Regions from separate parts of the Homo sapiens genome. Here region 1 is linked to region 2. The links come from fine-mapping of genetic effects on gene expression. A gene starts in region 2. The other region holds a variant in brackets. All regions are shown on one strand. Distances are between the middles of the regions. Region 1 overlaps ABLIM3 (actin binding LIM protein family member 3). Region 2 holds the start of GRPEL2 (GrpE like 2, mitochondrial).

Region 1 (16,446 bases), 130 kb before region 2:
CCTTCCTCAGGAGGGGTTAAACTGCCCACTACTGGAGGTGATTAAGCAGAGGAGGGTGCCCACTTGTCGAGAATGCTGTAGGTTACTGCATTGGGTGGGATGTTTGACCAAATACTCTGTGAACTCCAAACCCCTATGGAATTTTTAGGCCCTGCTGGGGAGGCCCACAGAGATACAAGTTCAGTATTAGTGACCTAGAAAGCTTGACCAGGTGTCTACAGTCCTTGGGTTCCTCTATACTGAGCTTGGGCAAGTCATTTCAGACCCCTGTCTATCTGTAAAAGAGAAGGGGGTACCTGACCTCTCTAAACTATTGCATTCTGGAGTCTAATTATTGGGCAGGGGGTGCAAGTAGACTTATAGACTTACCCCAGGAGAATAGAAAGGAAGAGAGATAAATCCCGAAACTCTTTATTCTCTCAGCCCCCATCTGAAGGCCTGGGGCTTGAAGCATTTTGCAAGTAGAGACCTTTCTGCCCCCAACTTGTACTAAGGGATGTTAGAAAGGCACGCAACAGCCAAGAGGCGGAGTACTGTGGGAACTGACTCATACAAACACTTCATCAAGGCCCCAGACCCTCCCCACAGCCGGCTGGACCCACCACCCTTCCTAGATTTGCAGACACATCATCTTTTCTTCTAGGACAGGCTCCCAGCTGGATGTGGGGGCTGTCCAGCCAGAATCCCCTAACTTTACATGCAGTTTCTGCTCTCCTCACTACTCCCAAGTGTGCATTTGTCTTATGGAGCCAACAGGGAAGTTTGTCCTCTGGTCAACTTTGCCCCATGACCCTTTCCTCCGCCAAAGTGGGTCATCCGGTTGGCTAGGCCTGAATTCCCAGCAGTTTCCAAGTGCCTTGGACGTTGGCTCCATTTCCGGACCCTCCTCAGACATTCATTGAGCAACAAGCTGATGCTAGGCTTGTCCCACATTCTCTTGGCCCCAACTCACATTCCAGGGTGACCGTGTCAGGGAGTGAGGGCACCTTTCTGGTTTGGGACAGTCTCATCAGACCCTGTAATCCTTGCCACTTGGGAAGGCACATGTTCGATGTGTGAAGCACAATGGGGAAGGGGTGGGTGTGGTAATTCTGTTTGTTGCCTGGGTACCATCAGGCCCATTCATTCATACACATTTGGCAAATATGCTTTGAGTTACTGCTATGGGCTGAGCACTGTGCTAGGCAAAGGAATAGGTTTAACCACAAAATATAAACACAGCCCTTGCCAATGTGTATATAGCCTAAGGGTTTGAAAAACTGTATACTTAGCCCATCCCCAGGAGCAGTGCTTCTTAAACTTTTACTCTGCACGGAGGTCTTGTTAAAATTCAAGAGGTCTGGGTGGGGTCTGCAATGCTGCACACTGCCAGCTTCCAGGTGATGCTGACGCTGCAGATGGCAAGGTCACGGACAGCAGCAGAGCTTAGTTAGCAATTTGAGGAGGGCTGGAAGCAGTGCAGGGTCCACTTTCAGTGAACAATGTGGTCTTGATGACAAGCAGGGAGGTCTTTCTTTCTCTCCTACACCAAGACCCCTTGTCAAGAGGCCAGGACTCCAGTGGCTTTTTCTCTCCCCTGGGAGAGCCTCTGGGAAGCTTCCAGTGTCAGGTGGGAGCAACTATGGGAACACTGGCATTCAGGGAGGGGTTTCCTTGACGTGGGCCTGAGATAGCGGGGGTTAAAGGGCCCAGGGTGCTTTGCTCAGCAGTGTCCTCTTGTCTTGCAGACTGTGCCGGGTGCAAGGAGGAGATCAAGCACGGCCAGTCACTCCTGGCTCTGGACAAGCAGTGGCACGTCAGCTGCTTCAAGTGCCAGACCTGCAGCGTCATCCTCACCGGGGAGTATATCAGCAAGTGGGTCCCCCTGCTCCTGCCCCAGCTGCCTGGGCCTCTGCATTCTGTGAGGCCTGCCCCATTGAGCCCATGCCTACATCTCCAGCATCATCTCCCTTCCTTTCCGTCTGCTGCTGCATTCTGGCCAAACAGCATCTTTCCCAGCAGCCTCTTTCCCCCGTTGGACCCTCCCGGGGGGGTTTCCCTCTGCCTGAGACACCCTCCCTGTTCCTTGCACGCCTGCTGCCCCTTCTCTCCCTTCTGGTCTCGGTCCCCATGCCTTCCCCTCCGGCCGTCTCTCATTTACTGCCCCGTTTTGGGCCCTCAGAGTACCTTGTTGTTTCCTTCACACAGGCTACCACCATTGGTAATTACATATTTATCCCTGGTAACTTTGTAATAATGCTAATAATACTATCTACCATTTATTGAGCTTTAATTATGTAGAAGGAACTCACTACTTTGTATGAAGTATCACTTTAAATCCTCATAACTGCCCCTTTGAGGAATTTATCCCCACTGAATACTCAGACTTGAGAGAGTAAATAACTTGCTCCAGTAATAGTGTTTAATCTCTGTACCCACCAGGAGAGGGGCTTTGTTTTAATCACTGCTATATCCCCTGCCCTGAGAGCAACACCTGACCCACAGTCAATAATATAGTTGCTGAATGAATTTAATGGATATGAGAGGAGGTGATGGGTGCATAGTTATCCAGAGGGGCCAACCTCCAGTGACCCACACACTGCAGTATTAGACAAGTGTCCTCTTGTTGCTGGGCCCCAGTGACCACATTTATATACTCAAGTACCTAAAAGTAATTATCAGCACAGATCCTTTGTCACAGCTTTGACATCATATGACCCCAGACCCTTCTAGGTGCCACTCTCTGGCCTGATGCCAGGCAGTGGCAAGCACACAGAGCTGCAGCACACATGCTTCTGCTGTCAAGACCCTGCAGTCTAATACGGGAAACAGATATGCTGCGTTCATGAAGAATTATGACACCAGGAAATGTGTGATCAGGAGCCCAGACAAGCTTTATTCTTTAAGACCTTTTTGATCCTAAGTGACAGAAAACCCACCTCCAACTCAATTAAAAGCAAAAATAGGAGTTTATTAACTCACAGAAATGGGAAGGCCAGAGGCACACTGGCTTCAGACATGGAGGAATCCAGGGGCTTAAGGATGTCATTAGTACTTCAGAAGTCTCTGTCTTTCTCTATCTATCTTTTTGTCTCTCTCTCTCTCTCTCTCTCTCTCTCTCTCTCTCAATTTCTCTTTCTCTCTCTCTGTCTCTCTTTCTCTCTCTCTGTCTCTCTCTGTCTCTGTCCCTGTCTTTCTCTGCTGTCTTCATGGTGGATTAGTTCTCAATCTGGCCCTCCCCAAGTGCTAGCAAAGAAGATTGCCAACACTCCAGGCTTCCATACCAAGCCTAGCAGAAAAAGAGGCCTCTTTCCCAGGAACTCCAGCAAAAGTCCCAGGTCTGCCTCTGATTTGGCCACTGTTAGGCCACATGCCCATTCCTGACCAATCACTGGCCCAGAGGATCTGAACCCTAGAGCCAGAGAGCAGCCTCTTGTGACCCACAGGGACCTCAACTGGGAAGGGGTGGCTTCCAAAGGGAAATCCAGGCGAGGTACTATTATCAGCAGAAGGGGAAATGGATGCTGGCCAAACAACACCTGCCTGTGTCCAAGATAACAAATAAAGGGCTGTGAATATTCAGAGAAAAAAAGGATGACTGCTAACTAGCATGAAGTAGAATCTTGAATCTCTGAGAGTTCCATGGAAGGTGGGGGTAAGATTCAAAAATGCAAAGAAGAAGAGCTTCTAGGCAGAATGGCCAGCCTGGGCAAGGCCAGGGCAGTAGGGGAGTGTTGGACATCTCCATCCTGTATAGGAGCTCAAACATGTGCCCAGGTGAAGCCAGATCCTGGGCTGCATAGGTGAGCTGAGGTCACATCACCGAGAGCTCTCGATGCCATGCTAGCAGGAGTTTGGCATTCCCCTCTATGCCCACCAAGCAAGGAGTGCCCTTAGTACATTGCCAGCCAGGAGTGCTTGAGTCTGGAAGCCTAAATCAGAGTTCTCTAGGGACTTAAGGGATTGTTCAGAGCTCCTCTCAAGGAGGCCCAGCCCAGATTGCCCACCACACCTGGTACCTCTGCAGCATAGCTCTGGGCCCCTTACCTGGCTGCTGGCAGAGTGGCAGGGGCTCAGAGGCACTGGCTCAGGCATCAGATGCCCAGGATAGAAGCGCAGCCTATGTGACCTTGGCAAGGGACTCCACTGCTCAGAGTCTCAGTTTCCTCATTTATAAAAATGGAGAGAAGATGATCTACCTGTAGGGTTGTGTAAGGGCTCAGAGATCTGTGCTTAGCACCCAATAACTGCCCAGTAAATACTCATTTTACCATCCTCTTTTAGAATTGTGTACCGCTAATTCCCCAAGAGAAGGATGGATCCAAAAGAGATTGTGTTGGCATTTATACTCAAATCTTGTTGGCTCATCACATCCACCTTCTGACAAATGACTTTTTCTCCCTGCAGAGCTACCCTCCCGCACCCACAGAGTGAGAACCTGATTGAGCGGGGGAGGAGGGAGGAGTTGAAAGGGTTGGGGGAGGTGTGTCTCAGGGGCTCACAAACAAGTCCTTGCCTTGTGGGCACAGTCACACCTCCAGACCTTGGTCGGACATCTTCAGACCTTGGTCCTCACTGCTGCTTCTCCAGGAAAATGCTGCCCAGGGTGGGCCCCCAGCAACCTCATCAGGGCAACAGCTTCGAGATGGAAAAGTGATGTGCCTCTCCTTTAGGTCTCTCAGTGTCTGAGCCAAGTTCTCTTACACCCAAAAGTGAAAGAAATGTTTCTCCTCAGAGTTCAGACTTGGTCATTAGAGCGAGGCAGAGCCCGAAGCAAAGCTAAGCTCTCCGATGCCCCCAACTATCTCTACCTCAGTCCTAGAGAACTGAGAACCAAATGTCCTCCTCAAAGACTCCTCTCAGCAATCATGGCCATTCCTCCAGCTGCCATTTGCTGAGTACTCAGTATGGCTAGGCACTGTCCTGAGCCCTAGGGTACACTGGACCCATCTCCTTTAATCCTCATGACAACCTGGGTGAGAAACCAGACAACCTGGGTTTGAATTCCAGCTCTAGGTCATCCTGGGTGGCCTGGGACAAGTTACTAAAGTGTGCTATGCTTAGGTTTTCTCACCTACACAATGGGGATACTAATAATTCTGACTCATAGGGTTGCCATCAAACACCATCAAAGAGCCCGGCGCACACCAGCAACAAATGTTAGTGGCTATTAGTCATAGGGGGTGGTATAAGAATAAGGGATAACAATCTTATCACTGTCCGCCAAGTGATAAACATTGGGTAAAAAATGGAGCACACAGGAGGTGGTCCCAGGAGGCTTCCTGTCATCTACTGATCTGGGAGCACAGTCAGATGATTCTTTCATACAGATGAAATTGTTTATTAAAGGAGAAGTATCGAACTTTGGCTCAGTCAACATAGGCTGCAGGTCCAGAATCTAAATGCCATGTGCACCCTCACTGATCCTCCCTAACTTCCTCATCCTATGTGAACTTCTTCTTGCAGGGATGGTGTTCCATACTGTGAGTCCGACTACCATGCCCAGTTTGGCATTAAATGTGAGACTTGTGACCGATACATCAGTGGCAGAGTCTTGGAGGTGAGTGGGTATAAGTAACCGTGAAGATGTGGCAGGGTGATCTGTGCCTCCAAAAAGTCATCACAGAAGAAGGAGAAAGTCATCCCATACCTTTTTTTCCATAGCCTTTACCTCCTCCACCTTTGCTTGCTACATGACCTTGAGCAGATAACCTTGCTGAGATCTCTGGGAAACCCCAAAATGAGAAGGTAGACAAAATTCTTCCTGGTTCAAAAAATGCTGTGCTGGGAAAATCAGTTGTATCTTTGATTCGGACCCAGACAGATTTCTAAAGAGTGACATTAGGATTTTCCTCCCAGCCCTGCCGGAGAAAGGAAGTCTTTTTTATTTATTTATTTATTTATTTATTTAATTATTTATTTTGTTTGTTTGTTTGTTTTAGTATTTGGTAATGTGCTGATTTAAGAGCCAGCTTGTCTAGCAGCTTGCTCCCTAAGCCCTTCTTTGGTGGGTCCATCACCATGGCAACGCCTCTCCCCAGCCTTTGATGTATGACTCCTTCTGCAGTGACAGACAACCTGCAAAACCCTTGCTGAGGCCTTGCTGAGCCCCTGTGCACTGGTCTTTCCGGCCTTTCTTCCTATACCCTGTGGGCCTGGAAGCTATCTTCCTATACTTTGGGACCACCCACCTTGATGAATTAGAAACAGGGAAGGGCTCAGTGGAAAGGAAAAATAATAGCCTAACAGGAATAATTGAGTTCTAGTATTGACTCTACTCCTGCTCAGATTTTGAGTAAGTATCTTTGCTTTTCTAGGCCTCAGTTTTTCCATATGACAATAGCTAGAGGATCAGATTGGATCAGGTATTGTCAGCAGAATCATTAATTCTGCCAAATCTGGCCAGTTGGTTGTGGTTACCATGAGTGCTTTGTTGAGAACAAGTCTGCAGCCACATGTAGACTCAGCAGGAGGGGATGTAGCAACCAGGAAGGAACTCTCTGAGGACATGCATTGAAGCAGAGCCCTGAGGATGAAAGAACTATCCCTGAAGGGCCCTGAGGTGGGAAAAGATAGAGGAAGAATGAGCTTGACCCATTCAAAGAACAGAGAACCCACACAGAATTGTGGCTGCAGAATTTTTCTCAACACAAGCACTCATGGTAACCACAACCAAGTGGCCAGATTTGGCTGAATTAATGATTCTGCTCACAATAGCTGACCCAGTCTGCCAATGTGGCTGAATTCTATAAATTGAGGGTAGGGGAGGATGAAATATAAGAGTATATCATATATGGCATACCATGTAGGACTTTGTAGACCATGTTTAGAAGTTTGGGTTTTATACTCAGTGCAATGGAAAGCCATTGGAGAGTTTTAAGCCAAGGACTAACATGATAAGATCATGTTTTTAAAAAGATTTCTGTGGTTACTGTGTGGAGAATTTTCAGAGAGAGTCAGAGACAATGAGATATAAACAAATGAGCAGAGCTGGGAAACATTTAAGCATCTCGAGAGCTGTAAGGAGTGCGATGCAGAGGACAAGGCATGAGTCCAGGAAGGGTTGTTGGGGGTGGGTTTCTGAGGGCCTGGGATACCAGGGTGGAGTTTGCATGTGACTCACTGGGCAAGGGAGCATTGTGGAGAGACTGGGAAGGAACGTCCTGGTTAGAGCTGGGCTTCTGGGAGGATGACGTGATAATGTACACAGGCTACATTTGAAGGAAGGAAGCTGGAAGGGATGAGTGAGGAGGCCCCTGCGTGACCCAGGCAGGAAGGACTCAAGAGGTACAGTAGCAATGGAGAGGGAAGCCACCCTTGTGCCCAGCCCTATGGAAGTAGAATTCCAATCACTCTGCAACTGAGGGGCAGCTTGTGGACATGGGGATTGAAGGAGAAGCAGCTAAAAGTTGCACCAAAGAATTATCTATTTCTGAGGGATAGGAAGCCTGGTGTCATTGGCAGAACTGGGGATGACAGGGGAAAAAGCTGATCTGGCAGAAACATGGCGAGTACCATTTAGGATGAGTTGTGATTGAAATCCCAGGAGTGTTTCCAGAAGGCAGTCAGAAATACGGATCAGAGGCTGGGAGTGGTGGCTCACACCTGTAATCCCAGCACTTTGGGATGCCAACACAGGGTGATCACTTGAGTCCAGGAGTTCAAGATCAGCCTAGGCAACACAGTGAGACTTCATCTCTATAAAAAATAAACAAAACTAGCCAGGCATGGTGGTGCACGCTTGTAGTCCTAGCCATTCCGGAGGATCACTTGAGCCTGAGAGGTGGAGGTTGCAATAAGTTGAGATTGCACCACTACACTCCCGCCTGGACAACAGAGCAAGATCCTGTCCGAGGCAAGAAAAATGAGAAAAGAAAAGAAATATGGATCAGAGCTCAGGAACAAAGCTCAGGCCTGGAGGAGCCAATCTTAAAAACGTGAGGCTTTGAATAATAGCACCACCAGAGTCCTCAGGATTTCCAAGACAGAGGAAAGAGAGCAAGGAAGGAGGCTGACACCAACCTTGGCGAGCAGCTGCTCACAGTGAAAGCGACTCAGAAAGAGACTGAGGAGGTAGCAGAGGAAGATATGGGAAGAGAATCGGGCATTCAGTGAAAGGACAGAGCTTCAGAAAACATGGTGAGGTCAGAGTGTTGGTCAAACTCTGTAGAGCAGTGAAGGACTGCGTGGGCTGCGGAAAAGCTGTTGGATGTGGGAAAGGTCACCTTCAGAAGAGTCGTTTGTTGGCTTTGCAGAACTGTGGGGAAGAGGCATCCAGAGTGTAGTAGGTTGAAGGGTCAATGCGGTGGGAGATATTACAAAAGGAAACTTTTCTTTCCAGAAAGAAAGAACTTAGATTACAGACAGGGCCACAGATGGAAATTTGTTCAGCATTTCCAAGCTGCTTTGAAATCCTGTTGGTGGCAGCTGCCGTTTCCCCGAGAGTTACCGTTGTTTAGCATTGCGGTAGACTGTTCCTCCCAGGCAGCTGTTGTGACTGAGTTTCGATTGATCCCATTTCTACAAGGCTCCATTAGCATCTTCGACTTATTGATTTTTTTTTTTTCTTAGAGCTGGAAGAGACTTTTAGCAATCAACTAGTTCAACCTCTTCATTTTACAGATGAGAAAAGTGAGACCAAGACATGCAGTGTTTTTCCAAGGTCACAAGCAGCATTTCTGGTAGAGACAGAGCTAAAATCTAGGACTCCAGGCTGCTGTATCTACCGATACCCACAGCTCTCAGCCACTTGGGGGTCTTTGAGGTAGCATGATGTCAGGAAATAGACATGGCTGCAGTAAAACAGACTTGGATTCAGATTTTACCACTTCTAGCCCTGAAGCCTTAAGCAAGATATGTCCTCTTAGTCTGTATCTATCAACAGACAATACTACTGTCATTTAATTCCTAATGAACACGTTAGTCAAGACTTTTTGGGCTGCAACAGAGAGGAAGTTTCTCAGCTCCTATAACAAAAAGCCCAGGAGCTGGATCCAGTGCTTAAGCGAAATCATTTAGAATCCCCAGCCATCTTGGCTTACTTTCTTCCAAGTTAAGTTTATTCTCAGGAGGGCGTTCTTGGTGATGGGAAAGTTGGACACCAGTTGCCCCAGGCTTAGATTCTATCAGCCGGCA[C/T]GCCCGGTGGAAAAAAGAACTTCTCTTTTCTAATAGCTCAGCAAGCATTCTGGGACTGACTCTCATTGGACAATCTCAGGCCCATCCCTGGGCCACTAATTGTGCCCACAAAGTTGGAATATGCTCATTGGTGGGGTCAGCACTACTTAACCCTGTGGACTGATATGGAGAAGAGGTAGCCCCACCAAGGAAAGGCTTGGGACTGTTTCTGGAAGAAGGAGGAAAGAATGATGGCCATGCAGGAACAACAGTCGCCCAAGCACATCGTCTGGCACACTGCAGGCATTCAATTAAGTTGTTTCTCCTTCTCTTCTCATCCTGTCCCTTCCCATTTCCTCCCTAGGCCACCCCATGGTCCCTTCCTCAGTGACAGAGCTCAATGGCTGTCAGTGTCACTCCTTCCATCCCTGTCTGTTTCCTCACCAAAAAGGACCACAACCTGGTTTGCTTGTTGCTACATTTTTGAACCTGGTTTGCTGTTTTCGGTCCTCTCAAATAGGGCTCTGTTTTGAGGGTACCAATTTTTTGCCATTTTTCTTTACTATTTTCCTGATTTCAGTTCGTTAATAGACAAAATGGTTCATCTCAGCTAGCTGACGTGGCTTTTCCTTACTCTGGGTGCAGGCTGCCCTACCTCCCTTTGCTCAAACTGTTTTCAACACCATCCAAGACTGGGGCTGCTGAGATGGGCACAAAGCCTCTTTCAGCTGGGGTGAGGTAGTGGGGCATGACATTTAGGAAAATGCTAGGCTTCAGTTTTGCCAAGGCACTGTTGCCACACTGGAAAACAGGTCTATAATCAAAATGATAAAGAGACACAGAGTAGGAAGAGGCTGCTAATTAAACTGATTATCCTTGTCATGGTACAAGGGAATCAGTCCCACACATTCCAGCTTAGGAAAATAGCAGGCTCCTTCCAAAGTTTGAACATATTCGCTTTGATGATGACAAGGACACTGTCTCATTGGTGCGAGGCCATATAAACAAACGGGGGGAAAAAGGAATATTGGAGATTTTTTTCTTTTTGTAAAAATCTGCCTTTCCCACATTCTTGCTAAGTTTTTAGAATAGAGATAATATCTCCAGAATAGGCAAGCCCATCCCAACAATCTTCCACTCCCCCCACATAAAAAAAAAAAGAAAAAAAAAACTAAGTTTGGAAATAGGTCTTCTTATTATGCAATTATAATTTTTGAATTGGAAGGAACCCATTAGCATCAGATCAAGTGATGGCTTGGACAGGGACCTTTAAGAACCCCTAACATCCATCAGTTTCCCCTGGGCATTACCCTCCCCCAAAGAAAACCCTGCCCTGACGTTGCAAAATATTTCTTCAAACAAGGCCCACCTGCCAACCCAATTGCTGCACCAAGCTCCTGCATATACAAATGCTGGAGCCGCCGCTGAAGTTCCCTTTTACAAGCCCTCTTGGCTGGGATTTTGGTGTTAGAATTGTGACTCCAGAAGCAAGTGCTGAGCTGGTGACTGACTCACACACATCCGGACCCAACACTGCTGCTGGCTTGCAGTGAACCCTTGAGGCACAACCTTCTCAGGGGCTGTTTCTTCCCCCCATGGAAGTCTTTGCAGCTGCAAATTATTTTCATTTTTAATTTAAATAGTGATGGGGAAGGAAAGTGAAAATAGGGAAGGCACTCACCAAAGTCACACTGGGGTGAGCTGCGGTAGGGCTGGACACACCAGGGCAAAATAGTCACAGGACTGGCCTGGGGATCTGGGGCTCTACAGTGGGTCCTAAATCACCCACTGAGCCCTAAAAATCTGTCCTTTGTGTGCCAGTCTCACAATTTTTGCCATGTCTGTGAACCTCGTGAGCTGATTCTTCCATAATACTTTAAGTGTCTTGAGGTTGGCTCCCTTATATGTAAGGAAACTTATATACGACATAACAGGAAAGCAGTATCACTTGCCATATTGCATGTAACCTGAAAATAAATAGAGTTCTAGCTAGATTCTATTGCATGTGGAGGTTCCAAGCCTCACACCTGTTCTCATTCTTTAAAAGGCAGATTTGTAGGTTTTGGATAGATGTTAAAGACACATAAGCACCGAACTGGTACTTCGTCCTTGACAAAATCAGAAGAATGTATAGAGGACTGAAAAGATCTTTTTTTTTTTTCCATTGGTCCAATGTTATTAAATCCCAAGTTCATGTACCACTTAAAATCATTTCATGTAACATTAGTGGTAAGGGCCTCTCACTTGGGGAAATGCTGGGATGTCCTCAAAGCAAGCCTGTTTCCTCCTCTGGAAATGAGGAAGTTGGACCAGTGGCCTCTCAAGTGTCCTTCCCAGTGTCAGAATAGAAGAGCAGGTATTCAGGGAAGTCCCCTGAACTGCCATCAGGGATCCATGGAGTGAATCACGAAGCTTCCCGGCTGGTCTTTTAGATGGTTGTGGACTCCCTTGGGTAGCTCCAACCAACTTTAGGGCCATGAAGATGCAAACAACACTAATGTACCCAGGAAAGATTCAAACCCAATCTGCCCCACTAGACAGCAGCCCTGGCTCTGACCTCCTGTTTCATCTTTTCATTTCCATAGGCAGGAGGGAAGCACTACCACCCAACCTGTGCCAGGTGTGTACGCTGCCACCAGATGTTCACCGAAGGAGAGGAAATGTACCTCACAGGTAAGTAAATCTGACCCTCTGTAAGGCCTTCCGACCTGCTCATGACTGGAAAGGAGATGCGATCTTCAGGTTCAGTGTTATCTTGGCTTCAGGTTCAGTGTTATCTTGGCTTTTGCCTTGTCCTCAGAATTGCAATTAATTGGCCCCTCTCTGGGTGGATTGGGAAGGTTGCCGGTGTGGCTAATATGAAGTGACATGTAATCTGCCTTCCGTCTCTGTGCACCTCCACCCGCTGCCCAGCTGGACTGCTTCCCTGGCAGTGCTCTGAGCAGACTCTCCTGGCTCTGCCTTGGGGGTGGGAAGCTGAGCTGCACAGGCCCAAGGGGTCAGAGAACCTCAGAGGGATGCCTGGGTTGCAAAGTGTCTATAGCATCACAGCCTCTACTCTACCTCCTTCTCCCCACATCTCAGAGCATCATGCCAGGCTGCTGCTCAGGGCTTCCCAGGGACTCTCAGAACACACAGAGGAATGAGGAGTGCCAGTCGTCCCCACAAAGCTAACCAGGGCTGCTTTCCATCTGCTGCTTCCCAGCCCTCTTACCCCAGGATTCTTACAACAGTCCCCTAATTAGTCTCCAGATTCTGCTCAGTCCTCTACCCTCTGCCCAGCCCACCATCCCAGGGCATCACGTGCTCTTGGCACTGCCCTGCTCTTCAGAGCCCCTCCCTGTCTGCCTATTTAGCTACAAACACTTCAGCCTAGCATTTAAAATCTTGCCAAGGTCCCAGGCTTCCTTTGTAGCCTTGAACATACCCGACACCTAAGCTACCAAAGCTAACTTTTGATCATTTATTCATCCACTCAATGATTGTTTCTTGAGCCCTGCCATGTGTAGGCTCTGTGCCAGCGTCCATGGTGAGGCTCACCCAGCCCTACAGTCCCCTGAAGGAGATGGGCATTAATCCATAATCACATAAATAAACATCAGCTGTGGTAAGTGTTATGAAGGAGAGAAGTGTGGGCCTTTGAGAGCACATAACGGGGTAGGAGGAGCCCCAGGAGGGCTCCCTGACGAAGGGCCAGGAGCTGAGATCCAGACCATGAGTGGGTGTTAACTGATGTTGTAGTTCATCTGGGCTGTTATAACCTCAGCAGACTGAGATACAGACAGGGCAGCTTATAAGCAGAAATCTATTTCTCACAGTTCTGGAAGCTGGGAAGTCCATGACCAAGGGTCCAATAGATTTGGTATCTGATGTGGACCCACTTTCTCAGAGATGGCACCTTCTCTCTGTGTCTCCACATGGTGGAAGGGGCAAGGCAGCTCTCTGGCGCCTCTTTTATAAGGACACTGGTCCATGACCTAATCACCTCCCAAATAGCCCTACCTCCTAAGACCATCACCTTGGGGGTTCGAATTTTGGCATATGGATGTGGGGGACACAAAAACATCCAGACCATAGCAACTGAACAAAAAGTGGAATAGGATGCACCAAAATGAGAGGACAGAGCCTGCAAGACTCTGAGGTGGGTGAAGAAATGGCGAGTGCATAAGGGCAAGTGGAGCCTGTGTGGCCAGGGCGCAGACAGAAGTGAGATGCAGCCAGGAGGCAAGCAGGGTGTATGGGCTGGGCCTTGTGGAGAGACTTTGTTTGGACTTAAAATGAACTCATGGCCCTTTCCCTTGTCTTCCTGTGCCCTTCTTTGGAAATCCTATCATTTGAGGCCCAGTTCAGTCACTACATGCTTCATAGGCACCCAGGATTTCCCCAACCCCACCCACAATTTAACACAGTCCTCTCTTCCCCCATCCCCACAGCCCTCTGTCTGCCCCTGGTCCCCTCCAGCTTGTATGAGAGTTGTTGGCCTCCTCCCTAAGGTCCTGTGCTCCTGGCACTTGTCCCTCAGCCCTGACCCTGGCCCATGCATACTCCCTCCACAGGTGAATGTCATTGGTGGAATCGCTGTGATTGGATAGCCATCTTGAGAAGGAATTAGGGCCCTTCCTCCAGGTAGATCTAAGGCCAGGGCAGCAGTTACAGGGAGTGTGTCAGTATCAGCTTGTCCTAGCCACAATGCCCACAGCCATGAGTTCCCTCAAGATGCAATGAGTCCCCCTGTGCCTACAGCTGAGTTCCTTAGCCTCAGCACTGGTGACACTGTGGGCTGTCCTGTGCATTGTAGGGTATTTGGTACCATCCTTGGTCTCTACCCATTAGATGCCAACCACGTGCTTCTTCCCACTGACAATCAAAAATGTCTCAGATATTGCCACATGTCCCTAGGGGGTCAAAATCATCCTCAGTGGAGAACCACTGGCCCAGAGCTACCCAACAGAAACTTGTGCCATCTGCTAAGAATCCTGGAGCAGGAATTCCTATGTTGGATTAAACAAAGTGACCATTTCTAAGATGCTGTCTACTTACTTATATGAACTGATGCTGGAGTGGTAAGGATCCCAGAGTCACTCTAAACTGTAAAGTGCCAACCCTCATTGTAGAGATGGGGAAAATAGACCCAGAGAAAAGAAGAGACTTGTGTGAGAATGGGAGTGCGTCAGGGCAGAGCAGGGCCTGGCCTTGCGTCTCCCCTCCAGGGTTCTTTCCACTTTACCCCTGGGACCCAGGCCCTGCCTGATATTCAGGTCCCTGTCCCTTCCTGTGCACACCAATCCCTCATTGCCTGGGTTCTTGAGTGATTCCTGCTGCAGGAACCAGTGTTATGAGGCTCAGCAACCTGCACCCTGCCTTCATCCTGACCACCATGGGAACCTGGAGTTTGCACTTGGCTTGAAAATTTGTTGCACAATATTCCTCTCCTCCTTCCCTGGTGAACAAACCTCCTAGTATTGAAACTGCCCTCCCATTCTCATCCCTACCTGGATATCACTAGAATAAACCACGTCTTTGCCTCCCTGCCTGAATTCCTAATCTTAATCTTTCCCTGTTGGGTGCTTTCACCCAGAGTGCCTCAGGGGGGATCCTGGCTCCACTGATTACTAAGTTTTTGACCTTGGGCAAGTCTCGTAACTCTCTGAAACTTGGCTGTCTAATATGTAAAATAGACCGAGAACAGTTGCTATAAGATATAGGTGTAGTAATTTCGTGACACATGGGAAGCTCCCATTTCAATCATTCATTTAGCAAATATCTATTGAGGATCTACTGTGTCCCCGCTGCTGTTCTCACAACTGAAGGTGTGGCAGTGAGCAAATCAGTCAAAGGCCCTGCCCTCATGGAGCTCACAGCCTCACAGGTTAGTGCTTTCATTCTTCCAACTTCCCACAGGTGCTAAAAGAGTTAAGCAAGGAAGTAAAGTGCATAGCTTTGTGATCCTGAGAGAGAATGCACCATTAAACCTACAGTGGAAATGCCTCCAAGGGTGGGAGATATTCTTAGTAATGAAGATGAGCCTGTCACCTTCTCATTAATTATCCCCATCCCTCTCCTGGCTCCTGGGAGAGTGGGAGTAATTGCAGGGCATTCAAGGACCTGCCTGAAAGGATGCTAAGTGATCCTGGAATGAGGGGGACCAGGCCAAGCAGTGCTAGAGTCACGCTCACTTGGGCTGTGAGTGTCTTGTGGGGGTTCTGCTACCACTGAGATCTGGGCCTTGGACACCCTCACCAAGTGGGGACACCAGGATTCAATATGATATCCCCCAGAATTGGCAAGAAAACCCTGCTCCTGGGTAGCTCAGGAGTGTAAAGAAGTGGCTGAGAGCCAGGACTCCCGGGTTCAAGCGTCAGCAATTCCACTAATAGGCTGTGACCTTGAGAAGTGGCTTCCTTCTCTGGATCTCTTGCTTCACCTGTAAAATGAGGATAACATCATCGTCTTTCATTGATCCACTCAAACTGGGGGCCACGCTATGTGCCAGGCTCTCTGCTACATGTTGGGCATTCAGAGATGAGTGAGGCAAGCATGCTTGCTGTCCTGGTGGAGTTCACTCTCTGGAAAGAGAAACCAACAGTGCCAAATAGAAGTGTAAACATTCAATGACAAGCTGTGACAAGTGCTGCACAGAGAAAGTTTTGAACAATGGGCATGTGTTATAAAGCCCCTGCTCTAGTCTGGGAAGCCAGGGAAGGTGCCCCTAAAAAGGGATATTTCAAGCCAAGACCTTGAAAATGAGTAGGAGGTGGGAGGCTGAAAAGGGCAGGAAGATTGAGGAGGCAGTGAGAACAGTGAGTGCAAAGGCCCTCCCTGGGTGGGTGGAAGCAGAACGAGGTGGAGAAACTGAGGCAGGCCCACTTACCTGGCACACAGAGAGCAACCATATGCCACAAGGTCCTCATGAACATTAGAGGAGAGAGTGAATGTGAAGGCACTGGGGACTCCATAAAGCAACTTATATAAGAGAGAGAGAGTGTTGGGATGCCTGCAAAGCTTACAAACCCAGCCTTGTCAGTTCTGGAGCTGGACACAGCATGGTACTGGCAAATGGTCCTTGGGAGATTCTTTGGGTGAGTTTGTTTGTGTTTTAATTGCTATGTGATGGCTTTCTGATGGGCTCTAATTGGGAGAAGTCTGACGTCTGTCTGGAGGAGAACTTCTGGGGCCCCAGGAGACAAGAGCAAGTTTTATTTGTTTTAAGTTCTGTTGTGTATTCAATCTTTTAACTGTGTTTGTAAAGATGCCAAATATCTAATCTGTTTGTTATCCAAACCCTTCATTTGGGCTTCACCAGGAAATTAGGTCACTCATTTTGTGCAGCAAAATAATGGCCAAAATGCTGCA
Region 2 (16,446 bases):
CAAAGGGGCTTAAGCACAGTGATAGCAAAGACCCTTTCAAGAAGGTGACACATAGGCAGAGACCTGAATGGAGTGTGAGGGAGAAACCCATGCAGGGGGCTGAGGGAAGGACGAACCAGGCAGAGAGAAGAGCAAGTGTCAAGTCCCTGAAGTGGGAAAAAGCTTGGCATGTTTGAGGAACATCAAGAAGATCCAGGTGATTCCAGTGAAAGGAACAAAGAGTGAGCATTAGGAGATGAGATCAGAGAAGTAACCAGTGAGGGGCCAGATCATCTAGAGCAGCAGTCAGCAAACTTTTTCTGTAAAGGGCCAGAGAGTAAATAGTTTAGGCTTTCTGAACCATATGATCTGTTCCACAGCCTCTCAACTCTGCCATTGTCGCATGAAAATAGCCATGGACAATATGAAAATGATGATGAAAATGGCTGTGTCCCAATAAAGCTTTTTTTTTTTTTTTTTTTTGAGACGGAGTCTCGCTCTGTCACCCAGGCTGGAGTGCAGTGGTATGATCTTGGCTCACTGCAACCACTGCAACCTCCACCTCCCAGGTTCAAGCAATTCTCCTGCCTTAGCCTCCTGTGTAGCTGGGATTACAGGTGCACAACACCACACTCGGCTAATTTTTTTGTATTTTTAGTAGAGACGGGGGGTTTCACCATGTTGGTCAGGTTGGTCTCGAACTCCTGACCTCGTGATCCGCCCACCTCGGCCTCCCAAAGTGCTGGGATTACAGGCATGAGCCACGGCACCTAGCCCAATAAAACTTATTTACAGGCACTGAAATTTGAATTTCGTATCATTTTCATGTGTCATGAGATAGTCGTCTTCTTTTGATTTTTTTTTCCAAACATTTAGAAATAGGAGCTGATGGATTATATGAGAATGGACAATAGGCCAGACTTGGCCCACAGACTATCATTTACCAGCCTTTCATCTAAAGCCTTTCAGGCCACTGAGGAACCATGGATCTTGTTCTAACATAATGGATCTTGTTGTGACATGATGGAAGGTTTTGAGCAAAGGGTTTTGGATATAAATTACATTTTTTAAAGACCATTCAGGCAACTATGTTGAGAATGGATGAAGGGACAAGAGATACCAGCATGGAGAAGTGACTTACTCAGGGCCACAGAAAGAGAGAGAGGGGGTTAGAACCCAACGCAACCTGGCTAGTGGAGATCTTCATCTAACTAGGTGCCGTGAAATCTCTTTATCCATGTCACACTAGACCATTCAGCAAATTGATTTGTCTTCTCTTTCTGTGCTTCAGGAATGGGAAATGAAGAAGACCTAGGAAGAGGATGAGGATTTCATTCCAAAGGAAATACCAGCTTGTCCACCTGAGGAAGAAATGCTTTTTTCACAAGGAGACACCAAGAGAAGACTAGGAAGTAGCCCTCGTTCTCCAGGGCACCCAAAATACCAGCCTTTATTGTCTGCATGATTTTAGGGGATATGGGGAGGGAACAAGTAGAAGGGAAGAGGGAAATGGAGAGCATCCTTATGACTTTACAAAGGGTGGAAATGAGGATGGAGGGATACAGAAGTCTGCACAGCTGTAAAGGTTTTATAGATGTCTTTGCCTTCCCTTCTGAGGAAGGGAAGAAGTAATGAAAGCACATGTGAATAACCCCTTCCATCCCATTCACAGCATCGCACTCCCAGTCCTTAAGGCAAAGGGAGGCAGTGCTGAAGCATTGGTGGTGCAGTGTAAAGAGACAAGACCTGATCATCTGATCACACTTGTGCCAACTTGATTCATATTGGGCATTACTAACAACCCCTGGTCAAGGTAAATAGGTTGAACAATCAATAACATTATCCCTGCCTGCATACATGTGAACAAAAGCTATAGAGGACATGCAAATTCTACAGTCATTCCTCATATGCTTTAGACAGAGTGCAGCTACTGGAATCTTCCAGATTTCAGTGTTTTAAAATCAGAGCTCTGAATACACAAAAGGAAAGAGAAATGGAGCAGCTGACATATTTTAAGCTCACAGTGATACTCAGTGACAGGAGCACAGAGCTCTAATGTCCACAGGATGTTGTAGGGTAGGGTCTCTCAGTAAATCAAGTCCCTTACCTATGTTCTGACACTGAGGCTCTTGGAGCTATGGGTTAGAAATCCAGGAGGCAATATGTCTTTATTCTAATGAAGTCCTCATCTTGCACTCAGAGGCCCACTAGTTTGCCCTTCTATATATTAAGTAAAACCAAGAGAAATTAAGAGGATGATGGCTTCTTTCTGTCACATGGGTGCTAAACCTTTTACAAACACTTGATACTTCTATAGAGGGACCAAGGACCTCAAGTCCTGGGCAGTCTCCTTACTGTGCTACTCACTACTGTCTCAACACTGTAGTGAGTCTGTCTTTAACACATTTCCTTCCAATAAAGATAAAACCACTTAACTCTTAAGTGCCAGTGCTTAGCTCAAGAGGAAAGAAGGAAAATCCCAGAATAACCGTGGCCACTTTGCTATAGGGGTTACATATTTTAACCCACCTAAGGTTTTACAGACTTTAGCCTCACTCAAACTTTATCACCCTCTGAGGTAGCTGGAGACCACAGCAGGAAAAATAACCTGACCAGTAATCACCCACTGATTAGTGGCAGAGCGTAGGACTTAGGGGTTATAAGCCCAGATCCAGATAGGGCTAGGTTTGAGCCATGCCTCTAATGACCAGCTGGGTGACCTTGGGAAAGTCACTTGATTGCTCTGATTCTTGTTTTCCTTATCTGTGAAATGGGACTAACAATTGTTACTTTTCTCCCAAGATTGTTGGGAAGATTTAATAAGATAATATATAGTAGGCATCTTGCATAGTGTCTGAGAAATAAGAAATGCTCAGTCAATAGTGGCTCTCATTAGCCAGGCATGGTGGTACTCGCCTGTAGTCCCAGCTACTCAGGAGGCTGAGGCAGGAGGACCGCTTGAGCCCAGGAGTTTGAGACTGTAGTGCACTATGATCACGCCTGTGAATTGCCACTGCACTCCAGCCTAAGCAAATAGCAAGACCCCATCTATTAAAAAAAAAAAGTGGCTATTATTAGCTATATCAGAAATGTCTGACTCACAAGCCTGTGTTCTTTCCACTGAAGAGGAAATTACTTTTCAGTGTTCTTTTTTAAAACGTGGATCCTGAAATGTCACCTAACTCTCCAACTATGTCTTCAGTGTCTGTCATACTCTTTCTTATGCAGTTATTTTGGGGTTAAGTGTCTTTTCTCACCAACAGATGAACTCTCAGAGGAGTGGCTGGGGGTAATTAATAATTAACATTTATCAAGCACTCACCATATGTCAGGCACTGTGTCAGCCATGGCCAGCTTCACAGGCATGCAACCTGTGCAGTCACACAGGGCCCCATGCTTAGAAGGGCCCTGTTCTTGGTTTAATGCTCTACTATTGCCTTCTTAATCATATTTGAACAAGGAGTTCTGCTTTTCCTTTTGCCCTTTAAATTAGATAGCCAGTCCTGGTGCTAACTAACCACTTTTCTAGGTATTATCCCTTTAGTTTTCACTGAAACCCTGAGATAAGTTATATTGCCCTAGTTTTCACAGTTCAGGAAATGGAAGCTCACAGAGGTCAGGTAACTTGTCCAAGCTCCCATAGTTCTTATATTTACATGCTGGTGGAGCCAGCATGTGAATATAAGAAGTCTGACCCTAGAGCCTTATTCTTAATTTTAAAGCTCTATGTCATCCATATATCTCCCTCCCCTTGTACTGCAACATTCAGAAGCACACTAGCACTTAATAAATAGACGAATGAATGCATGGATGCAAGCAGCAACCTGGTGAACGTTAGGCAGCTAGGAGAAATGTAAGCAAAATGGCTAAGGCACAGATGCCACTTGTTCTTGGTTGTTAAAATGCCTTGTTTAGGCCAGGTATGGTGGCTCATGCCTGTAATCCCAGCACTTTGGGAGGCCGAAGCGGGTGGATCACTTGAGGTCAGGAGTTCAAGACCAGCCTGGCCAACATGGCAAAACCCCATCTCTATCAAAAATACAAAAGTTAGCTGGGCACGGTGGCACATGCCGGTAGTCCCAGCTACTTGGGAGGCTGAGGGAGGAGAATCACTTGAACCCGGGAGGTGGAGGTTGCAGTGAGCCGAGATCGCACCACTGCACTCCAGCCTGGGCAATAGCAAGACTCCATCTCAAAAAAAAAAAAATGCCTTATTTGGTTGTGTTTTTTCAAAGTGTAAGCCACAGGTCTAAGCCCAACACTGCCAAGTGTTCAGTCTGTCAGAATTCTACTGTCACTGTTTCCTTATTGCGGGATCTTGCATAGGTTTACCAACCTTTCTGAGCCTCAATTTTCTCATATGTAAAAGAGAATCATAATACCTCCCTAAACCATATCACCCTTTTCATAAGGCCAAAAAGAAAATATAAGTTATTGGTCATGACACATTTGAGTTGGACCTCGGATTAGATAAAAAGATGAAAATACTCCAGCTCTGTCCTCATGGAACTCAGAGACAAGCAGGAAAGAAAATGTGACCCAAATAACTACAGTACAAATAACCCATGTTATGACAAGATTCAGAGTGCTCAAGGAACACTTCCCATTCCCTTAAAAAAAAAAATTAAGGGACTATCCAGTAACTAAGCTGGCAACTCCAAGTGCCCTGGACCCCAGTCACCAATCCATCCTCTCAGTCTGTCAGCTTTCCATCCTAAATCTCTAAAATTCATCCATATCTTCCTATCTTCACTGACACTATCCAACTTAATTAAGTCATTCAACAAATACTTGAGTACCTACTATACTAGATGTCAGAAATCAGTGGTGAACAAGACAGACACCTCATGAAGCTCACATTCTAGTTGGAGGAAAAAACCTTAACAAGGAAGCAAAAGAAATAAAATACTAAGAAACTAAAAGGGTGCTGGACACAGTTACTTTACAGTGGTTAGGAAGGTCTCTCTCTGTTCTTCCAGGACAGAATATAGCCCCATCTTGCCTGGGCTACTGCAACATATTGCCTTCCCTACCTCTTTTCTTACACCTTGCAATCTGCTTCACACAGCAGTCAAAGTGACTCTTTAAACATGAAAGCCTTTGTCACATGTTCCCTGTCAATCTAAAATAATTTAAAAGGTCAGAATCTAGTTTAAAGAGAGTTTATTCAAGCACAAAGGTTGAGGATGGCCTGCCCAGGAAGCACAGAATGGAAAAATATGTCTGTCTTAAAAAAGATGGAAGTCAGTGTTCCAAAGTGTGAAAGGTTGGGTTCAGTGAGGTTTAACAGAATTTCAACATCTTTCTATGCAAGGCTTAATGCACAGTTACAATGATCTGAGTAGTTAAGGTGGTCTTTTTCCTTCAAGAAAGGTACATTTAACATCACATCCTGCAGATGTAACTGTCATGGGGTCAGTTCAGTTCAGGGCACCATCTAGTCTGAGTTAGGTGCAGGACAATAAAGGAGGCTGTCTATTACAAACATCAGTAATTGAGAGGGAAGAAATCTGGTCTCTGCTCTTTCCTAGTCATTACAGAACAAGAACAATGAGGAAGAGAATTAAGCTATAATTCTAAGAAGCAGAACTACAAAACATGCTACATGGACTCAGACCACAGCCACATCTCTCTCAAAGCTTCAAGTATTTGGGAGGTTCCAACAGCTTTTAGGTTTTATTTATTTTCACATTCCATTGCAATCAGAATCAGACTAAATTGCATTCAGCAAAAAAGTTTTTTGAAGCCGGGGGCGGTGGCTCATGCCTGTAATCCCAGCACTTTGGAAGGCTGAGGAAGGCAGATCACCTGAGGTCAGGAGTTCAAGCCCAGCCTAACCAACATGGTGAAACCCTGTCTCTACTAAAAATACAAAAATTAGCCGGGTGTAGTGGGCGCCTGTAATCCCAGCTACTGAGGAGGCTGAGGCAGGAGAATCACTTGAACCTGGGAGGCAGAGGTTGCAGTGAGCCGAGATCGTGCCACTGCACTCCAGCCTGGGTGACAGAGTGAGACTCCATCTCAAAAAAAATAATTTTGAACACCTACATTAGGGCACTGCTCAATGGGAATGAATAGACAATATCTCTGCCTTAAAAGAGCTTATATTTTAGTGAGAGGAAATGAGAAAATACACACTATTTAAAAAAACAATTCAGTCGATAAGAAGGGCATTAGAGAAAAAGACTGGGAGGAGTGATGGGCAATGGTTCAGGCTGCGATGTTTTAAACCGCTCACGTGATCTAGCCCTTCCTAACCACCAGTCCTGTTGCCCTCCCGCCTCAGTATATTTCAGTCCCTTACATGCAATACTCTTCTCTCTTTATTAGGCTTCTGCAGATGTTTCCCTCTGCCTGAACCCTTTCTTCAGCTCAGCTCAAATACCCCCTTCCTCTGGGAAAACTTTCCACAAGGCTAGATTTCTATTCTAGGCTTCCGCGACACCTGCCCCTCACCTTCAAACACCGCTCATATTCTGACTTTACATCCCGCTTGTATCTGTTTATCGCTCATAATATCAAGTAAGCTCCATGCGGGCACAGCTATGATCTGCTTTCTTTGCTGCCGACCCTGCGCCCAGCACGGAGACTGTAGTTACTACTAGGACCTCGCCTACCCGCGGAACACACTGAGAGCCGGAAGTGTTGCCTTAGCTCCGGACGACCGGATGGGGAACGGCGCGGCCCATCGGGCAACCGGAAGCATAGCGTTCCTGTCCGGAAGTCCTGAGAGGGAAACGCCCGCAAAGGCTGGTTTTTAAGCGGGAGCATCTCTTCACTCGCAGCAAGTGCGCGTGCGCTGCCTCTCAGCCCAAATTGGAAACATGGCCGTACGGTCGCTGTGGGCGGGCCGGCTGCGGGTGCAGCGCCTACTGGCCTGGAGTGCCGCGTGGGAGAGCAAGTAAGCATTGCAGGCGGGGAGTCGGGAGCGTGAGGACTCTGAGGGGCTAGCGAGCCAGCCGGGGTGGTTGTGGGCTGGAAGGCGAGAGCTATCTGAGCGTAGGCCAGGGGACCAAGCTTCTCGGCCTCTACGACCGTGCACTCACGGCCCCATTTTACAGACGGGGAAACTGAGGCCATCAGCCGTGCCTCTTTCTTAGGCCGAGGAAGGTAAGGAGATCCGAGGTCATGCATGGCCTGGAAGGTGAGAAGTCTCTTAAGCCCCCAAGGGAGGGATGTACCACTCTCCCGGCCTCTTCTCCCAGCCTGTGGTACCTGTGGGTAAATTTGGGTTCTCTCCCCTCACTCCGTGTGACCTAAGGCCAGTCCTTTCTCCGTTATCCGGGCACTGTTGTACCTGTCAGTAAAAGGAGGCCGCTGAACTTGTTTCTCCAAACGGCCATTGCATCAGCCTTCGGAAGACAAGTTCCATCGGCAGCTTTTATTGGTCGCTTACGAGGCCGACTGCAGAATTATGGGTGGTTCTTTTTATTATTACCCATTTAGTAGTTAAGGAAAGTGAGGTTTAGAAAAGTTGAGTAACTTCCAAACTTAAATATTTGGGAAGTGGTGGAACCCGGGCTGGAAACCAGTCAGGGCGTTGGAATCGGCGCTCTTATTTAATGAGCGATGTTAATTAATTTTCTCAGAGACTGTTGCCCCTACACTGTTTCTTCCTGGGATAGAGAATAAAAATAGTTGAGTACGAGGTAGGGTTGGACCTCTGAATAGTAAAGTAAGCTACGGGAGAATCTGGTAAATGTGCTTAACTACATATGTCACCCTTTTTACCTTAACACACCTGACCCAACATCCTACCCTAGCACCTAAGTGAGAGGTTGCATTCAGGGTTTCGGGACTTGGTTTTGCTTACCGTTCTCAAGTCTTTTTGGCAGCTTGTTGGTGATGTAAGGAAATGACCAGAAGAAAAATGGTTCCTTCTGGTAAGCTGTCTCCCTACTCCAGTTCTGAAGCAGTAGGAATTGAGATTGGCCACAACTCCCCAACCCTATTTCTTGGTCTAAGCTTTGGCCATTTTCCCTTTGAACTGGCCCTGAGAATTTTTTTTTTTTTTTTTTTTTTTTTTTTTTTTTTTTTTTTGAGACGGAGTCTCACTCTGTCGCCCAGGCTGGAGTGCAGTGGCACAATCTCGGCTCACTGCAAGCTCCGCCTCCCGGGTTCACGCCATTCTCCTGCCTCAGCCTCCCGAGTAGCTGGGACTACAGGCGCCCGCCACTACGCCCAGCTAATTTTTTGTATTTTTAGTAGAGACGGGGTTTCACCGTGGTCTCGATCTCCTGACCTCGTGATCCGCACGCCTCGGCCTCCCAAAGTGCTGGGATTACAGGCGTGAGCCACCGCGCCCGGCCCCTGAGAATATTTTGACCTGCTTTTTCAAGTGGATAAATGTGGTTTTTTTAGGGAGAAGATGTTTCACCGTGTGTAATTAGCCCCAGATCTACGGTGACCATATTTTCTGACCCCAAAATGTGGAACTGTCTATAAAATCACACACCGGATTATAATAATTGAATTTAAGATCAGCTTGGAAAGTAGGAGAGATAAAAGTCCTCTTGCTTACACCTTTAAACTAGCTATTTGCTCTGCCCAGGATGCTCTTCCCTTTTCTAAAGCTGACTCCTTTACCCTCTTTAAGCCTTTGCTCAGCTGTCTCCGTGAGGACCACTCTACAGTATATGCCAGTCCATAAAAATTGTTTTAAAGAACTCATGTACTCACAGATTGATTTTCAAGATAATTTTACTTACAGTCAAATTACGAAGATCCAGGAGTTGCAGTGGAAACTTCCTTGAACTGGGCCAGGTCAGGACTGCCACAGCCCAAGATTTGCTGTAAACTAGCCCCTAGTCTAAATTTATTTCTGTGTAAACTGAACTAAATGTCAAAACAGTTTAGCTGTACAAAATTCTAGATTACATAACTAGTTGAATGCAAAGATCTATTTTCACCTGTGTCTATTCACCGGCAGTAACATATAGTATTGTATAAGTATTTCATTGACTTGATCTTATTTATAGGTGGGAATTTCTTTCTCAGCACAGGTCTCCTAAAAGCCTTACAGGTTGTGGTGAGGAAGGCTTAGAATTCTAAGCCTTAAGGTCCCTTTACTGGACTTAATTTCCCTCATCTGTAAGTTAGAAGGTTGAACCAGAACTATATGACTTTTTGAATGCCCACTTCTGACAATGCTCCTCTGGTTCTGGGTACTAGCATTTGGTTTCCTTATGCTGACTTTTGTATACCCAGTTCTGGCTATTTCTGCTGCCTGGTTCTTAGTGTCCTGACCCAGCGGAATACCAACTATGTGATCTTGAGCAGGCCATTATGCCTTAAGCCTCTCAGCATCAGTTTTCTCATCTGTAAAATAGGGATAATGATAGGACTTATCTCACATATTGTTGTGAGAGGAAAAGATGACTCAAGTAAAACAGTGTCTGGTACATGGTAAGGACTTCGTAAGTGTTCATTTGTTACTATAACTGAAAACACTTTCTCCAGAGATTCCATCTGGGAAGATCTCTGGTCTCTAAACTTGGTTGTAATTTTGGCTTATGATGGCATTTCTTCATTATGTGCCACCTCCTTCCTGTTTTAGGGGATGGCCGCTTCCATTCAGCACTGCCACCCAGAGAACTGCTGGTGAGGACTGCCGTTCTGAGGACCCTCCTGATGAGCTTGGGCCCCCTCTTGCTGAACGAGCCTTAAGGGTAAAAGCTGTTAAACTGGAGAAAGAAGTCCAAGATTTAACAGTGAGTCAATTTTATATTTCTTCTTCATATCCTCTCTCTAGTTTAAATATCCACATAAAGTTTTTTATGTCAATTTTCAAAATGAAGTTTTCTTTAATTGGCTCTTTATCTGCTACCCCTCATCCCTCCTCCACTCCTTGCTAGGTATACTGGGCAGAAAAAAACTGTAGTAGTTGAAAAACACCACTGGCTAAAGATAGTCATCTCTTTTCGGTTTCCTGTTATGTCACAGCACTTAGATATCTGATGTTTCAGCAGATTAAAGGAGGTGTACAGTGCCTGGAATATAGTAGACAATAAATATTTGTTGAATGAGTGAGGTCACTGACCATTGTTCTTTGCTGATGAGACCATGTCTGGCATACTGGACCCAGTCCTGGGTTGATAGACACACTTAGAGGGAGATAGATAAACTAGAGGAATTCCAAAGCAAAACCACCTAGATAGAATGGTAAGGAGGCTGGAAAGCATTCCTTATGACAGCAATTGAAAGAACCACGAATTGTCTTAAGAATGAGAGAGAAAAGGACTAAAGAGGGTAAAATAACTGCCTCCAAATAGATGACATACTTTTTTTTTTTTTAAATGAGACGTAGTTTCACTCTTGTTGTCCAGGCTGGAGTACAATGGCATGATCTCAGCTCACTGCAACCTCTGCCTCCCAGGTTCAAGTGCTTCTTCTGCCTCAGCCTCCCGAATAGCTGGGATTACAGGTGCCTGACACCATGCCAGGCTGATTTTTGTATTTTTAGTAGAGACAGGGTTTTACCATGTTGGCCAGGCTGGTCTCAAACTCCTGACCTCAAGTGATTCGCCCATCTCAGCCTCCCAAAGTGCTGGGATTACAGGCGTGAGCCACCGTGCCCTGCCTAGATGACATACTTTTAAAACTTATTCTCAGTTATCCTTAAGTTCAAGTCAATGAAAGGAAGTTGGAGGTTGGCAGTGTTGGCTGAATGTGAAAAAGAAAGCTTTTCCTCAAGATAATGAACTTGAAACCGTTAGGAGTTTGAACTGTCAGGCTAAATGACTACCTAGCAGTGCTGCTAAAGAGTGGGTTTCTGCGTTGACTGGGGATTTGGAGTAGCTGATCTAAGATTTCTGTAACTCCTAGTTTGTTTTATAAAAACCTATCAAAAGGGTGAAATTTGTAAAGTAAGCAAAAACATTCTCTTCCACCAATAAGTATTTGTTTTCTCATCCTTTTGATTTTGCTTTTGATATTCAGGTGAGATACCAGAGAGCTATAGCTGATTGTGAAAACATAAGGAGGCGAACCCAGAGATGTGTGGAAGACGCCAAGATATTTGGTGAGAGATTTATTTACAATAAAAATGTCTTTGGTTGGGCACAGTGGCTTATGCCTGTAATCCCAGCACTTTGAGAGTCTAAGGCTGTCAGATCACATGAGATCAGGATTCAAGACCAGTCTGGCCAACATGACACCTCGTCTCTACTGAAAATACAAACTAGCTAGGCATGGTGGCAGGCGCCTGTAATCCCAGCTACTCTGGAGGCTGAGGCACGAGAATCACTTGAACCCAGGAGGCAGAGGTTGCAGTAAGCCAGGATCATGCCCCTACACTCCAGCCTGGTCAACAGAATGAGACTCAGTCTCAAAAAAAAAAATGAAAAATGTCTTTGACTTCAAAGTCAAAGACCTAGCCTGTTTTGACACAAGGCCTTAAGCCTGTCCCTGGATTAAAGTCAGATTAACAAAGTCCTTGACTCTCACCAGCCCCCACTGGAGCTTTGGTATCGTGTCATAGACCTCTCTAATGATGACTTTCTTGCCCTCATTTCTGTAAGAAAAATCAAGTTTTAGAATTGAGCGTAATGGGATTTCTCAACAACTGAATTTACTTTTGTCTTGTAACAGTTCGTATGACTCTTTTAAAAAATCAGACAAGTTTTGTGGTCCATCTCTAGCAACTTCATAGCCAACTTACCTCATCTATGGCTGTGTCTTACTTTCGTGTTCCTATTTAGCCAGTCCTCAAGAATAAACCATTCATGACACCCCTTAGCATAGTGTTGTTGACTTTCTTTTTTTATTGTTAGTGCCCTTCTCGTGAAATATTAATGTCTTGTCCCTGTTGAGAATGTATGCCATAGCACAACTGGGACAGGCAGGAATTTTCAAAATGTACATAATACTACAAGCAAATAGCAACAAAAATTCATGTACATAAAAATAGTTGTTTTTAAAGAACAGGTTTAAGCCTGTTGTGTATAGTCTTACCTAGTTCTTGGGTTCTGTCTTTTCCATTTCCTAGTCAAGTTCCTAGTCATATATGCCTTCTGAGAGAGACACTGACTTGTCAGTTGGGTTGGGGTGGTAATCAGTGATGATCTCTGAGTCCTGTGTGGCAACCTTTCCACTTGCTGGACTACTCAGCATACTAGCCGTCTATCTAGGCCTTACCCAAACTCTATGCCCACGGGCAGAGTGATTTCCTCACAAACAATAAAAATAACTGGCTTCTCTGCAGGAATCCAGAGTTTCTGTAAGGACTTGGTGGAGGTGGCTGACATTTTGGAGAAGACTACAGAGTGCATTTCTGAAGAATCGGAGCCTGAGGACCAAAAGCTCACTCTGGAGAAGGTCTTCCGAGGGTTGTTGCTTTTAGAAGCAAAGCTGAAAAGTGTGTTTGCCAAGCATGGCCTGGAGAAACTGACACCCATTGGTGACAAATATGACCCCCATGAGCATGAACTCATCTGTCATGTGCCAGCTGGTGTTGGGGTGCAGCCTGGCACCGTGGCATTAGTAAGACAAGATGGCTACAAACTTCATGGCCGCACCATTAGGCTTGCCCGAGTGGAAGTGGCAGTGGAGTCTCAGAGAAGACTGTGAAGAGGCCATCAGGAACTGGATGTTCTCCCAGAGCGCAGTCACCTATGTTTCTTTTATTTATTAAACTAGGTTTGTATTGTACATGAGGTACTTCATGTGATATGTTTTGGATTTAGTCATATTGGCTTTATTTCTAAGATATTCTATTGATTTAATGTGACCTGTTTGGTCTCATCAGAAGTCTTACCATTGGGCATTTGAACAGTGTGACAGGTGTTCCAATGGCCTTTATCAAAACATGTTTAGGAAAATTGGTACTGTGATAAATTTGAATCCAAAATCCTTTTAACTATGGGTTTTCAACTACATGTTTCTTCCTAGCGGTCTCTATAACAGGAATTGTGTAGTATCTTGTATTTTGTGGAAAAAGGAGATGGTAGGGATTGGTTCAACATTTGGGTACTTAGAGGATAAAGCTTCGTGGTCGTATAAATTTAGATCATTTGGATTGATTTTTATACACATAGATTTTCAGGACTTTACCTTTTGTTTTGTTTTTTTCCTTTTAGCCATCTTTTGTTCTTGTAATCCCAACTAGATAGGCTTTATGCTCACATCATTGTCCCATACCCACCCCTTTCTCATCCCCATTTGCAGGGGCTAAAGGTCTAGATGAGACTTGGAAGGCAAGGAGCATCGAAATTTGAGATACCCAGGACCCTTTCAAGCAAGAATGGCCAAAAAGCCTTGTGCTGTCTTTGCTCTTCAAATTATTTTCAGCCTCCTTGTCATATAATCATTTCAGGCAAACTGAGGCAACACTAACAGCTAATGACCCAGATGGCTCTATTTGGGTAATTTACCTACAACTTATTCCACCAGCCTTTACTCCTCTGCCCTTTTGTCAATTTTACCTTATAATCCTTTATTAAATGATGGGAGGTGGTGATCAGGACAAAAGTGTTAGGTTCCCATGATTTCTCATTTCATTTATTAATAGTTAATGCTGAATTTTTTTTTAAGTTTCCTCTGGCTCTATTTATGTTACTTTTTGCGATAAGAACACTTAACATAAGTATTCTCTCCTCTTGGCAATTTTTTTTTTTTTTCCTGTGTTGCCCAGGCTGACCTCCAACTCCTGGGCCCAAGCAATCCTGCCTCAGCCTGCCAAGTAGCTAGGACTACAGGCGTTCACCACTGCGCCCGCAAAGTTTTTTTGTTGTTTTTTTTTTTAAGTTGGTACTCACAAATCACTACCTCTGTTATATTGACAAGCTCTATTTCCTATTCTTTGTATCTGTTAAGTCACATCTGTGTAAACATTGAGCTCACCTTTTATATATTAACCTCTAGAATTAATGGGCCTATGTGGTTTTTTTTCAGTCTTATAGCTGGTGTTCTGTAAAAGATTTGTCCAATAAACGACTTAATGAATGATACATCAGTCAGATTTTAGGAAGGCAGTCAATTATGGATATTTTAATGTTGGAAGAGGCCTTAATGATCAAATCTCACCCTTTCTGCTTCTGAAGTATGAAAATCTAGTCTTTTTAGGACTGGACACAAGGAAAATAATCTCTAAACTATTGACTAAATTCCAGTGAGAGTATGAATGAAGAACAACTAGATATTAATGTCAATCATTTAAGATTAATGGGCATGCAATTAAGTCTCCATTTAAGATTAATGGGCATGCAATGAAGTCTCCAGCAGACAATCAGATGTTGTTGGATGTCTAGATTATATAGGTTTAGGTTGAAGTTATAAAATAAAATAAAATTCATTTTCCACTGGAACTCTATGACATTCAGTGGAGTGGTGGAAAGTTAACCTCTTATACATTATAGATAATTCTAAGACAGCACACAAACTTATCAATAAAGCCATCTCCTTGTGGGCCTTACCATCTTCATCAGATTTAGACCCTTAAAAAACAAGTAAATATGCACTTTTAAAATGCAATCAAAAGACTGGTGGTTAAGCTTGTAAAACCAGAACATCTTTTGGCATTCCACTAAGTATATATTGTAAATTTAATGAACAATCAAGGTTCACAATAGGAAGTTGTCTTTTTTTGCCTTCCATTCTGTGAGATTTGACAGATGGTGACAATAAGAAAATGAGCTGATTGTAATTACTCTCTGTGTGTTTTTTTATTGCTAGCTATCATTACCAGTTAGAATTAACATTAATTACAATTAACAATAATTTTAGGTATGGAATGTTATGATTACCTAAAGAGATGTCTCTACCTAATGAGCTCAAGTGATCCTCCCACCTCAGCCTACCAAGTAGCCAGGACCACAGGCAAGTGCACCACCATGACTGGCTAGTTTTGTTTTTTGGTTTTTGGTTTTTGGTTTTTGGTTTTTTTTTTTTGGTTGGTTGGTTGTTTTTTACAGGCGGGGTCTCACTATATTGTCCAGGCTAGAAGAATTTTCTAATGGTCTATTACACCTCCCGTTTTGGCAAGTAAATTCAGAATAATTTTAGGTTCTTTTGTTATTCAGTAGTTTTGCAGACTTAAAAGTGTAAATTTAGAATTAGAAGATGAAGCTATAGTAGTAAGAATCTCAAGCTGAAGGGCTTTGGGGAGCCAAAGCAGCATATTAGAGCATAGGCTTGAACTTAAATCTCAGCTCAGTCACCTGCAGGACTTTAGGCACCAGTGATTTCACCCTTCTGAGCCTGTTTCTTTATTCGTAAAATGATTATAATAATTCTTTCACAGCGTTGTGAGGATTAAGTGAAATGTGTTAAATGCCTACTACAGTAGGTGCTCAGATATTTATTTTTATTTTTTTATTATGCACATTGTTTTTCCTGCCTTTTTATGGCTGTCTAAAGTCTAGGGAAAAGGGAAGACTGGTTAATGATGAGTAGAAAAAACTTGTAAGCTAATCATTCACTGACTTATTTTCCTTCCATTTTCTGGTTTTTAAAATTAGCCACACCACAGGAAACCCACATTTTTAGATGGAAAGAGCAAGAAAATTGTGTCAGTGCTCTTAGTTATTTTCATCTTAATGGTATAGTGAAAAGACATTGACTTGAGATGATACTAAGGAAGCTTTGGCTCACTCTCACTTGAAGAGGGGATCTTGGTGTTGTAGTACTTGGACTGTACAAATGTTTTACTGACTTTTCTTACTGCTGTAAAGGAATCAGGCAGTTGGGTATTGATATGTTATTTGGTGCTCTCATTCATGGCAAAGGATTTGATAAATAAAAGTTCTTTAAACACTAAAGCAAAATCAAATGAGCAAAACTAAGGATGAAATGTAATATTCATCAGAACAAGGATCACTGAGAAAAAATATTCAGAAACAACTTTAATAAAACCTGAATTGAAATAACTGCAGCTCTGGTGTTTAGAGTCTTTGTCTGCCTATTCGTATTGTATATGGAACATTATGGTCACTTCATGACTGCTGACCTGCCTTGTTGATGCTCTGGAGAGGTACCTTGAGATCTCATAGCAGCATAGCCAAGTGGATGCACTGTGGGCTTTCCCCACCCTGCCTCCGTGTTGAAGTCTTGTCTGTTTTATTCCTCCTTGACTTGCCTCTTTCTGATTGCTACATATTTCTTAGATCTGGATTCCTATTTCTGCCTTTTTTTTTTTTTTTTTTTTTTGAGATGGAGTTTTGCTCTTGTTGCCCAGGCTAGAGTGCAATGGCGCGATCTCAGCTCAGCGCAACCTCCGCCTCCCAGGTTCAAGCAATTCTCCTGCCTCAGCCTCCCGAGTAGCTGGGATTACAGGCACCTGCCACCACGCCTAATTTTTTGTATTTTGAGTAGAGACAGTTTCACCACGTTGGCCAGGCTGGTCTTGAACTCCTGACTTCAGGCGATCCACCTGCCTCGGCTTCCCAAAGTGCTGGGCTCACAGGCCTGAGCCACTGTTCCCAGCCCTATTTCTGCCTTCTTTTCTGGCATTGACTTGTTTTCTTGGGTTCG

What was found. PIP is the estimated chance that this variant, and not a neighbour inherited with it, causes the effect. A credible set is the group of variants that fine-mapping cannot tell apart.
Region 1: its variant is the best candidate, but not a certain one, in a credible set for the expression of GRPEL2 in whole blood (INTERVAL, PIP 0.70).

The regions. Positions count from the first base shown.
Region 1 is chr5:149,205,281-149,221,726 of GRCh38, forward strand. It overlaps ABLIM3 (actin binding LIM protein family member 3), which reads left to right. Exons shown (of 24, transcript NM_014945.5): 6 at 1,728-1,854; 7 at 5,446-5,539; 8 at 11,679-11,766. Among named protein-coding and RNA genes, the nearest start is that of AFAP1L1, 58 kb to the right of the region's middle. The variant C/T (reference allele first, on the strand shown) is at 9,115.
Region 2 is chr5:149,338,737-149,355,182 of GRCh38, forward strand. GRPEL2 (GrpE like 2, mitochondrial) reads left to right here and starts at 6,763. Exons shown (of 4, transcript NM_152407.4): 1 at 6,763-6,880; 2 at 9,536-9,689; 3 at 10,918-10,999; 4 at 12,182-15,847. The coding sequence starts at 6,804. The coding sequence ends at 12,546. AFAP1L1 (actin filament associated protein 1 like 1) reads left to right here. Exons shown (of 19, transcript NM_152406.4): 19 at 1,271-4,901. The coding sequence ends at 1,294. GRPEL2-AS1 (GRPEL2 antisense RNA 1) reads right to left here. Exons shown (of 2, transcript NR_132366.1): 2 at 9,380-9,662. RefSeq lists enhancers at 6,446-7,071, 7,072-7,695, 8,220-8,720.